Regions from separate parts of the Homo sapiens genome. Here all the other regions are linked to region 1. The links come from fine-mapping of genetic effects on gene expression. A gene starts in region 1. Each other region holds a variant in brackets. All regions are shown on one strand. Distances are between the middles of the regions.

What was found.
Region 2: its variant is fine-mapped to the expression of SEPTIN2 in whole blood (TOPMed, PIP above 0.99).
Region 3: its variant is fine-mapped to the expression of SEPTIN2 in Th1 cells (Schmiedel 2018, PIP 0.95).

The regions. Positions count from the first base shown.
Region 1 is chr2:241,314,315-241,317,068 of GRCh38, reverse strand. SEPTIN2 (septin 2) reads right to left here and starts at 1,144. Exons shown (of 13, transcript NM_004404.5): 1 at 1,087-1,144. It overlaps HDLBP (high density lipoprotein binding protein), which reads left to right and starts at 1,397. Exons shown (of 28, transcript NM_005336.6): 1 at 1,397-1,499. RefSeq lists enhancers at 1-671, 622-681, 672-1,396, 1,322-1,421, 1,442-1,491 and 1 more and silencers at 872-1,221, 1,762-2,141.
Region 2 is chr2:241,225,064-241,227,817 of GRCh38, reverse strand. ANO7 (anoctamin 7) reads right to left here. Exons shown (of 25, transcript NM_001370694.2): 25 at 1,842-2,754. HDLBP (high density lipoprotein binding protein) reads left to right here. Exons shown (of 28, transcript NM_005336.6): 28 at 1-527. LOC105376810 (a long non-coding RNA gene) reads right to left here and starts at 1,139. Exons shown (of 2, transcript XR_001739176.3): 1 at 1,051-1,139; 2 at 1-926. The variant C/T (reference allele first, on the strand shown) is at 1,192.
Region 3 is chr2:241,255,968-241,258,721 of GRCh38, reverse strand. It overlaps HDLBP (high density lipoprotein binding protein), which reads left to right. Exons shown (of 28, transcript NM_005336.6): 6 at 1,916-2,122; 7 at 2,323-2,538. Among named protein-coding and RNA genes, the nearest start is that of HDLBP-AS1, 15 kb to the left of the region's middle. The variant A/G (reference allele first, on the strand shown) is at 1,479.

The sequences.
Region 1 (2,754 bases):
GCACTGTGATTCAAAAAGTATTTGAGAACCTACTAGGTGCTAGACACCAACCGAGGCAATGAGTATGGGTGACAACATGTGCCCTGCCCTCACAGCACCAATAGTCCACTGGACAAATACCATCTGGAACATCAGGTAAACACCTAAGCCTGTCTGGAGGAAATCTAATTTGGGCGGAATCCCACAAGCACAGACTAGGTAAGGAGAAGGCAGTTAAGGTGGGAAGTAGCCAGATTTAAGAGTTTGGGCAATGGCCAAAGGTGCAGAAGTTTGAACTACAAGAAGTTCAGTGTAGTTGGTTCGTGTGTTTCCGTGGAGAGAGGACAAGGTCTGGTGGCACTGACAAGAATTAGACCGAAAAGGTAAAAAAGCAAGCCAGGTTTGTCTGGGCCAGTAGGCCAGGTCACAGTTGGGACTCCACTGAGACCACGGAAGCCACAGGTTTGCTCCTCATCCCCGGGCCAACTCGGCGGCCTCCAACCCTATACCCTACCCCCTGCTGCCTGTCCGTGCCTCGCTGGTGCAGACCTTCGTCGCCTCTCCTCGCCGAAGGTACCCGCAGACAGGGCCTAGTCGCTCTCCCCTCGCTTATCCACGGCATCCAGCCGATGGGCTTGGAGGTTTGGGGGCTGGCCAGTCCTCCACGCCTCAGGGAGGAAATGGCACCGTTAGAAAGACAAGATGGCCACACAAGCTCTAAGTGTTTGTCGGGCCTAAACCTGTATCCTCCCTCCAAGCACCAAACCTCCCGACCTCGACCGCACTCGACGCCCCGAGGCCCAGCACCGACGACAGTGCAGAGGAATTCCCGCAGGGTCAACAAGGGGTCACCGGAATCCCCACTCCCGCGCCCGGGCCTGCCCGTGTCGGAGCCACTGTCGCCGGCACTAGGACCGCCCGGGACGGGGGAGCCCACGATAAGTGCCGAAGAGCCTGGGCTCGGCCGCCCCTCCCCCACACCGCCCCGCCGGCACCCCAGAGCCAGCCGACCACCGCCCGAGAGTATGGGACGAGCGGCGCGTCCCCCGCAGCTCCTCGGGAGGGCCGGCCCACAACTTGTGCGGGGTACACCGGCGAGACACTCACCCGCCAAACAGCCCGAGAACAGGCGCCGACCGACCGCGCCGCGGACCCGCCCAGCGCTCGCGGTCCGCTCACAGCCCGCCCCAGCCCGCCCCGCCCCGCCCAGCGCGCAGGCGGATTGCGTCACCGCGTCACCCCGCCCCTTTGCCAACTGCTTCCTGGCTCAGTGCGACCTGGCCTTCTTCCCCTCCCCCATGCGGCCGGCTTCCGAGTGCGCAAGCCCAGAGTCGTCCGCGTTGTCCGCCTCTGCGCAAGCGCCGTGCTCCTCCCACGGCAGTTGGCCATATAGAGGCTGGGGGTGGGGGGGGAGGTCAAGCGTAGCCTCTTCTCCTTTACCAAGATGGCGGCTTGTCCCTGTTTCGCCACAGTTCCTACCTTATGAGCTCGGTTTTCTTATGCTTATAAGAGTGGAACAGGTAATGAGAATCTTCGCCTTGCGGTGGGTAACTGGAGTGGGGGGAAGGCCGTTTGTTAGAAGGAGACAAGTGCCCACTGAGGAGGAGAGAGGCGGTCGCGGGAGGGCAGGTGGTGGCGGGAGTGCGGAGCGATCACGGGGAGGGGGAGCCTTCGCCTCTCCTCCTGTCCTCCAAGAAGATGGCGGCAGCACCGAGCTGGGGCGCCGAGTACGACTGGGCGGGGGACGGCGAGCGGCCGCGCGAAACTCGTCTAGCCCACCACCGCCGCCGTCTCGATGATCGGGGGGCCTCTCTGGGATTGGCTGCGCGCACGTCACGTGGGGCCGACGGGCCCTGCGCAGACCATCGAGTCGGGCGTCCCTCCCCGGGGACGTGGCCTTCCTGTGCCCGGGCTGGGGCCCGCCGCCCCGCGGGGGAGGGCGGAGCTGGCGCGGCCCCTAGCTTTCTCCTTCTGGTGTGGGGCCCGAGGTGAGACCTGGGGAGTGCTCCGCGAGCCCACGAGCAGCGACGTGGCTCGGGGACGGGAGGGTGCCGTGCCTGGCTGCGGCCTGAGCGGGATGGGCGCGGGCGGCTCCGGCCCGCGGGTTGTGCCCCGGCCCGGGGTGTCCTTTCCTCCCTCCCGCGTGGCCTGGAGGCACTGCAACTGTTCGAGACTCACGTCAAGGCTTGGCGCAAATACCCCTCGTTCAGGAAGCCTTCCTAGGTTTCCCCCGCTTAGAGGAAACACTTCCTGAGTTCCTAATGGCTGACCCGCATGGTGTTGGGAACCTGAGCCTTTCTGACACCGTGGCATGTTGCTAGGGTATTTTTGTGCGTAGCTCCTTTGAAAAGTGGTTAGGTGCTCAAGGCTAGCTGCTACATATCCTCTCCATTCGACTTAAAAAATGAGAGGGTCAGACTTGACATGGTGTTTGGACGCCATGTAAAATCGAAGGAAGTCGACTTGGGCTTTGCTTATTAAACAGTGCCTATTATGGTGAAATTAAACGGCTGAAGGAATGTGGATGAGTCGTAATCTTAAGGAACATGACGATTTGCCCCTCAGTTTTGCGTTTTATGTCCTCAGATTCATAGCTACCTATACCCTAAGCCCTCAATCAATGACTTCACATTTATTTGGTGTCTGCTTAAGGATAGTCACTTTCTTAGCAGCTAACTTCCTTAAAACCCTATTAAGATAGGTTAAGTCACAATTAGGGTTTTGTCTAAGGCTCCTGGTAGCGGCACATTGCATAATAAGCTTAATGTTCATTTA
Region 2 (2,754 bases), 89 kb after region 1:
CTGTCACCTCTTCCCCATCTGCATGAGTTCTGGAACTCTGTCCTGTTGGCTGCTTGCTTCCAGCTCCCCCCAATCTCCATCGCAGCGGGTTCCTCCTGTCTTTTCTACAGTGTCATAAAACATCCTGCCCCTACCCTCTCCCAAAGGTCAATTTTAATTCTCACCAAGTTTTGCACATCTCTGTATGTCGCTTGATGTCTTAGACGCGAGCCCTTTCCTAAACTGTTCAGCGCTCTCTTTTCCTTTGGGTGGTTGTTGCAAGGGTGATGACATGACTGTCCCCAGGCCTGTCTCCCTGAAGCGTCTGTGCTGTCAGGACAGCCCTGGGCAGAGATGAGGCAGGGGTGAGGCGTGCGTGTGCTTTTCCTCCTTGTTGGATGTCTTCCATATCATCTGTTTCCATAGCTACAATCCATCCCTTGGCCTTAACTTTGGAATTTGGAGATTATATGCAAACATGTGTAAAGGCTCATGAATATGGATGACACTGGAATTTTATAAATTCTAAAATAAAACCCGAAACCAGATGTAGCATGCTGGGACTCATTTTGTCACGCTGCCGCCTGTGTGTTCTCTTTCTCGTCACCCTGGAGTGGTGACTGGCATCTGTGGGTAGTTCGTCTTTGGTGTGATTTTCTCAGCAGTTCTCAACACTGTGTTCAACGGCCCCTCGGGAGCCACACTGAGGGAGACCCAGGTGTGGTCATGGCAAGAGGGTGGCTGCCTGTCCCTGTCCTCTGGCTGCCAGACAGTCAGCAGTTGCCCTGCAGCCCTCATTGAGGGTGGACAACCGTCCTTGTGGAGCAGCACCTGCCACTCCCTTTTAGGACTCTGCCAGCCTCAGTGGCATTCCTGGCACCCTGGACCCGGCCTGTGAGTTATGACGAGCTGAGTTGGGTGGTGGGGGGTGCGGGCGGAGGCCTCGGCTGGAGGAGGAGGAGGGAGGGGCGTTGAGTGGGAGGAGCCACCCCAGTCACCTGAGTGGCAGGAGATAACGGGAAGAGTCAAGAGGGAATAGGTGTTCCTGCTGCTGACTGGGCTGGTCCCCACCTGGGAAGACGGGTATGGCAGTTCCTCTTAAAGCCAAACATGTTGGCCGGGTACGGTGGCTCACGCCTGTAATCCCAGCACTTTGGGAAGCCGAGGTGGGCGGATCACGAGGTCAGGAGATCAAGACCATCCTGGCTAACA[C/T]GGTGAAACCCCGTCTCTATTAAAAATGCAAAAAATTAGCTGGGTGTGGTGGCGGGCGCCTGTAGTCCCAGCTACTCGGGAGGCTGAGGCAGGAGAATGGCGTGAACCCGGGAGGCAGAGCTTGCAGTGAGCCGAGATCGTACCACTGCACTCCAGCCTGGGTGACAGAGCGAGACTCCATCTCAAAAAAAAAAAAATGCCGAACATGTTTATCCCTGACCCAGCAGTTCTGTTGGGCCCTAAATATGCAACCCACAGCAAAGCACACAACTGCAAAATGACCCTAAGCCAAACACGAAGCAGCCCAGCAGCCAGGAGGGGCTGAGATGGATGCTCGGCACGGATGGAGCTCGCGCAATGTCCCACGGCAGACGCCAAATGCAAAGTCCCCAGTTCCATCTCTGCTTGGTGGCTAAGGTGGTGGCTACTCTGGATGGGAAAGGGTCACAGGCAGGGTAGGGCGCATGTGGGCATCAGGGCCCTGGATGGGAGAGGGTCACAGGGTAGGGCGCACGTGGGCATCGGGGAGCTTCCACGTCGGGTGATGTGGAACTTGCCTTTTACCCACGTGCTGGTTACAACAGTTTGTTCACCTGGAAGCCTGTATGAACTGAGCATTTTCGTACGTTTCAATAAATTCACCTTAAAACTTTGGAGTTTAAGACAGCAACAATAAAAAGCAACCAGCTGGAAGGAAGTACACGTGGGTTTGTAGTAAGCATTGTGCTGAGCGAAAGCACACGTGGAATGGCTGAGCTCCCCATCTGTGTAAAGTTTCCAAGGTTCCCGCCCCGGGCCGTGTGTGCTGTCCGCCATGCTCCGGCCGGTGGTGTCCAGCCCCAGGGCGCTGTGAGCCTGCATCCCTGCCGGAAGAGCCCTTCCATGGAGGCAGGGCACAGTGCTCCTAAGAGGCAGGTGAACAAGTAGCAAATCCTCAAGAAATGCTACAAGCAAGCACGCCGCCCTCAGGCCAGGCATCACGGTGGGTGAAATAGAACGCAGGCGAGGATGTTCAGAAAGAGGCCTTTTCTGTGGAGTAAGTTTGGCAGTACTCATCAAAGCACATTAAAACCACATATTCTTTTTGTGTGTGTGTGTTCCCGAGACGGAGTCTTGCTCTGTCGCCCAGGCTGTAGTGCAGTGTTGAGATCTCAGCTCACTACAACCTCCGCCTCCCGGGTTCAAACGATTCTCCTGCCTCAGCCTCCCAAATAGCTGGGATTACAGATGCCCGCCACCACACCCAGAATAATTTTTGCATTTTTAGTAAAGACAGGGTTTCACCATGTTGGACAGGCTAGTCCCGAACTCCTGACCTTGTAATCCTCCTGCCTCAGCCTCCCAAAGTCCTGGGATTACAGGTGTGAGCCACCACGCTCAGCTAAAAACCACATATTCTTTTTGACACTTAAGTTCCACTTGTAGAACTCCAAGGACATCAATACAGATGAGCACAGATCCATTTTTTAGCAAGCAGACGGCCACACTGGGATTGCTGCGGGGTAGCAAGTTAGCCAGGGGAAGCTTCATGTGGCTCCCCAGCACAGGGCAGAACTGCACGTC
Region 3 (2,754 bases), 58 kb after region 1:
TGAGTCATTGTTAGGAAAGTTTTTTCACTATCAGGTCATAAGAAAGTTTATCTTTTCTTCTGCTGCTTGTAAATGTGTTCTTACATTTCAGTTTCTGATCTATTTGGAATTTATTGCAAATAGGGTTGAGGCACTGATTGAGTTTCACTTTTTTCCATACGGCTTTCGAGTTGTCAGCACTATTTTTTTGTTTGTTGTAACACAGGGTCTCAGCCTGCCACATAAGCTGAAGTGCCATGGCATGATCACGGCTCACCGGAGCCTCAACCTCCTAGGCTCAGGCAGTTCTCCTGCCTCAGCCACCCCAGTAGCTGGGACCACAGGCACACGTCACCATGGCCAGCTAATTTTTTTTTTTTTTTTTTTTTTTTTTTTGAGACGGAGTCTTGCTCTGTCGCCCAGGCTGGAGTGCAGTGGCGCGATCTCGGCTCACTGCAAGCTCCGCCTCCCGGGTTCACGCCATTCGCCTGCCTCAGCCTCCCGAGTAGCTGGGATTACAGGCGCCTGCCACCATGCTAATTTTTGTATTTTTGGTGACCTCGTGATCCACCCACCTCGGCCTCCCAAAGTGCTGGGATTACAGGCGTGAGCCACTGCGCCTGGCCTTGGCCAGCTTATTTTTAAAATTTTTGTAGAAGTCAGGTCTCACCATGTTGCCCAGGCTGATCTTGGACTCCTGGGCTCAAACAATCCTCTCATCTCGGCTTCCCGGAGTGCTGGGATTACAGGCGTGCCATCACTGTCTTGAAAAGACGTTTTGCTCTAGTGAACTTGAGTGGCTGCTTTTATCATGTCCTAAATGTTTATATTAACTTAGCTCTGTTTCTGGGTTTTCAGTTCAGACCAGCAGGTCTTTCCGTATACTGGTATTTCCTGTGTTAATGATAATGGTTTCATGTTTAATGTCTAGGACCACTGTTAACACCTCCACCCTGCACTATTCTTTTTCAGGGTTTTCTTGTTCATTTTTGTTGGTTCTGTGTTACAACCTTTATAATCAACTGTTTGAAATTGTATTAATATTTTAAAGTTAATTGGGATGATCGCCATCTACTTAAACCTTCTGTTAGCTATTTTAAGGAGTGTTTTCTAATTTCGAATGCACATACTCCACCTTGTGTTGGGCTTGTGTCTTGCTATTTTCTTGTCCTTTTTTCTTTTTTCCTTTTTTCTATTAGAAACACATCTTTTGGCCAGGCGCAGTGGCTCACACCTGCAATCCCAGCACTTTGGGAGGCTGAGGTGGGCGGATCACAAGGTCAGGAATTCGAGACCATCGGGGCCAACATGGTGAAACCCTGCCTCTACTAAAAATATAAAAATTAGCTGGGCATGGTGGCGCACGCCTGTAGTCCCAGCTAATCGAGAGGCTGAGGCAGGAGAATCCCTTGAACCCAGGAGGCAGAGGTTACAGTGAGCCAAGATGGCACCACTGCACTCCAGCCTGACGTCAGAGCGAGACTCCGTCTCAAAAAAAA[A/G]GAAACGCATCTCTTTCATTACATCTTCTAAGTAGTTGTTGTTTGTGGAAGTTAATGTTGTTAACTTCTTGATTTCAGTCTTTTCTCTTTGCTATAAATAGAATTTCACCCAGTAGTTTTTTCAGGGTTTCTGGATATGCAGTCATGCTTCTTCCTGTCCAGCTTTTGTGGATGTTAACTCTTGTCTCCCTTTGTGGGTGTATATTCCAGTGGATGTTAAGTAGTGGTGCAGATACACTCGAACTTACCCTAACCTGGGAGTCAGGGCAACCTTCCCCAAGCATGTGATGTTTAAGCTCATGCTGTTTTAATGGATGAGTTGGTGCTGCTGGGCAGGAATAAGCAAAGATGGTGTTTCTGCCAGAATGTCTTGGAAAAATATGCTCCTTCAGAACCTACAAATATTCTTGTTTTCTTTTATTCTCTTCTTGCTATAGGCCTCAGCAACTGTTGCCATTCCCAAAGAACACCATCGCTTTGTTATTGGCAAAAATGGAGAGAAACTGCAAGACTTGGAGCTAAAAACTGCAACCAAAATCCAGATCCCACGCCCAGATGACCCCAGCAATCAGATCAAGATCACTGGCACCAAAGAGGGCATCGAGAAAGCTCGCCATGAAGTCTTACTCATCTCTGCCGAGCAGGTGAGGCCTGTGTGAGTGCCTCGTGCCCCTGCCTACCTGCTTGTGCAGACCTCACTCCCTCATGGGTTGCCGTGTCCAGTGTGGACTTCAAGGCATAATGTGGTGGGGGTGGAGGGCTTGACTCCAACTCTAAAAAGCCCTGTCTGTCCCCAGTTTGTTTTCAAAGGCCTGTTCTCATCAGATCATCCCTTCCTTTCCAGGACAAACGTGCTGTGGAGAGGCTAGAAGTAGAAAAGGCATTCCACCCCTTCATCGCTGGGCCGTATAATAGACTGGTTGGCGAGATCATGCAGGAGACAGGCACGCGCATCAACATCCCCCCACCCAGCGTGAACCGGACAGAGATTGTCTTCACTGGAGAGAAGGAACAGTTGGCTCAGGCTGTGGCTCGCATCAAGAAGATTTATGAGGAGAAGGTACACGATTTAGAGGAGGCAAATCCCCATGGGCAGGAATAGAAATGAGGATTTGGGTCTGGAGATTCAGTTAAGGCCTGGTTCTGCCCCTTATCTTTTTGTCCTTGATGAAGATGCTTATTGTCTCTACACTTGAGTGACCCGGGTGAGATCGGTGCCCGCCCCCCCTTGCTGTTGAGCATCTGCCTGGCAGTTGTCCTTGCCGTCCTGGGCCTC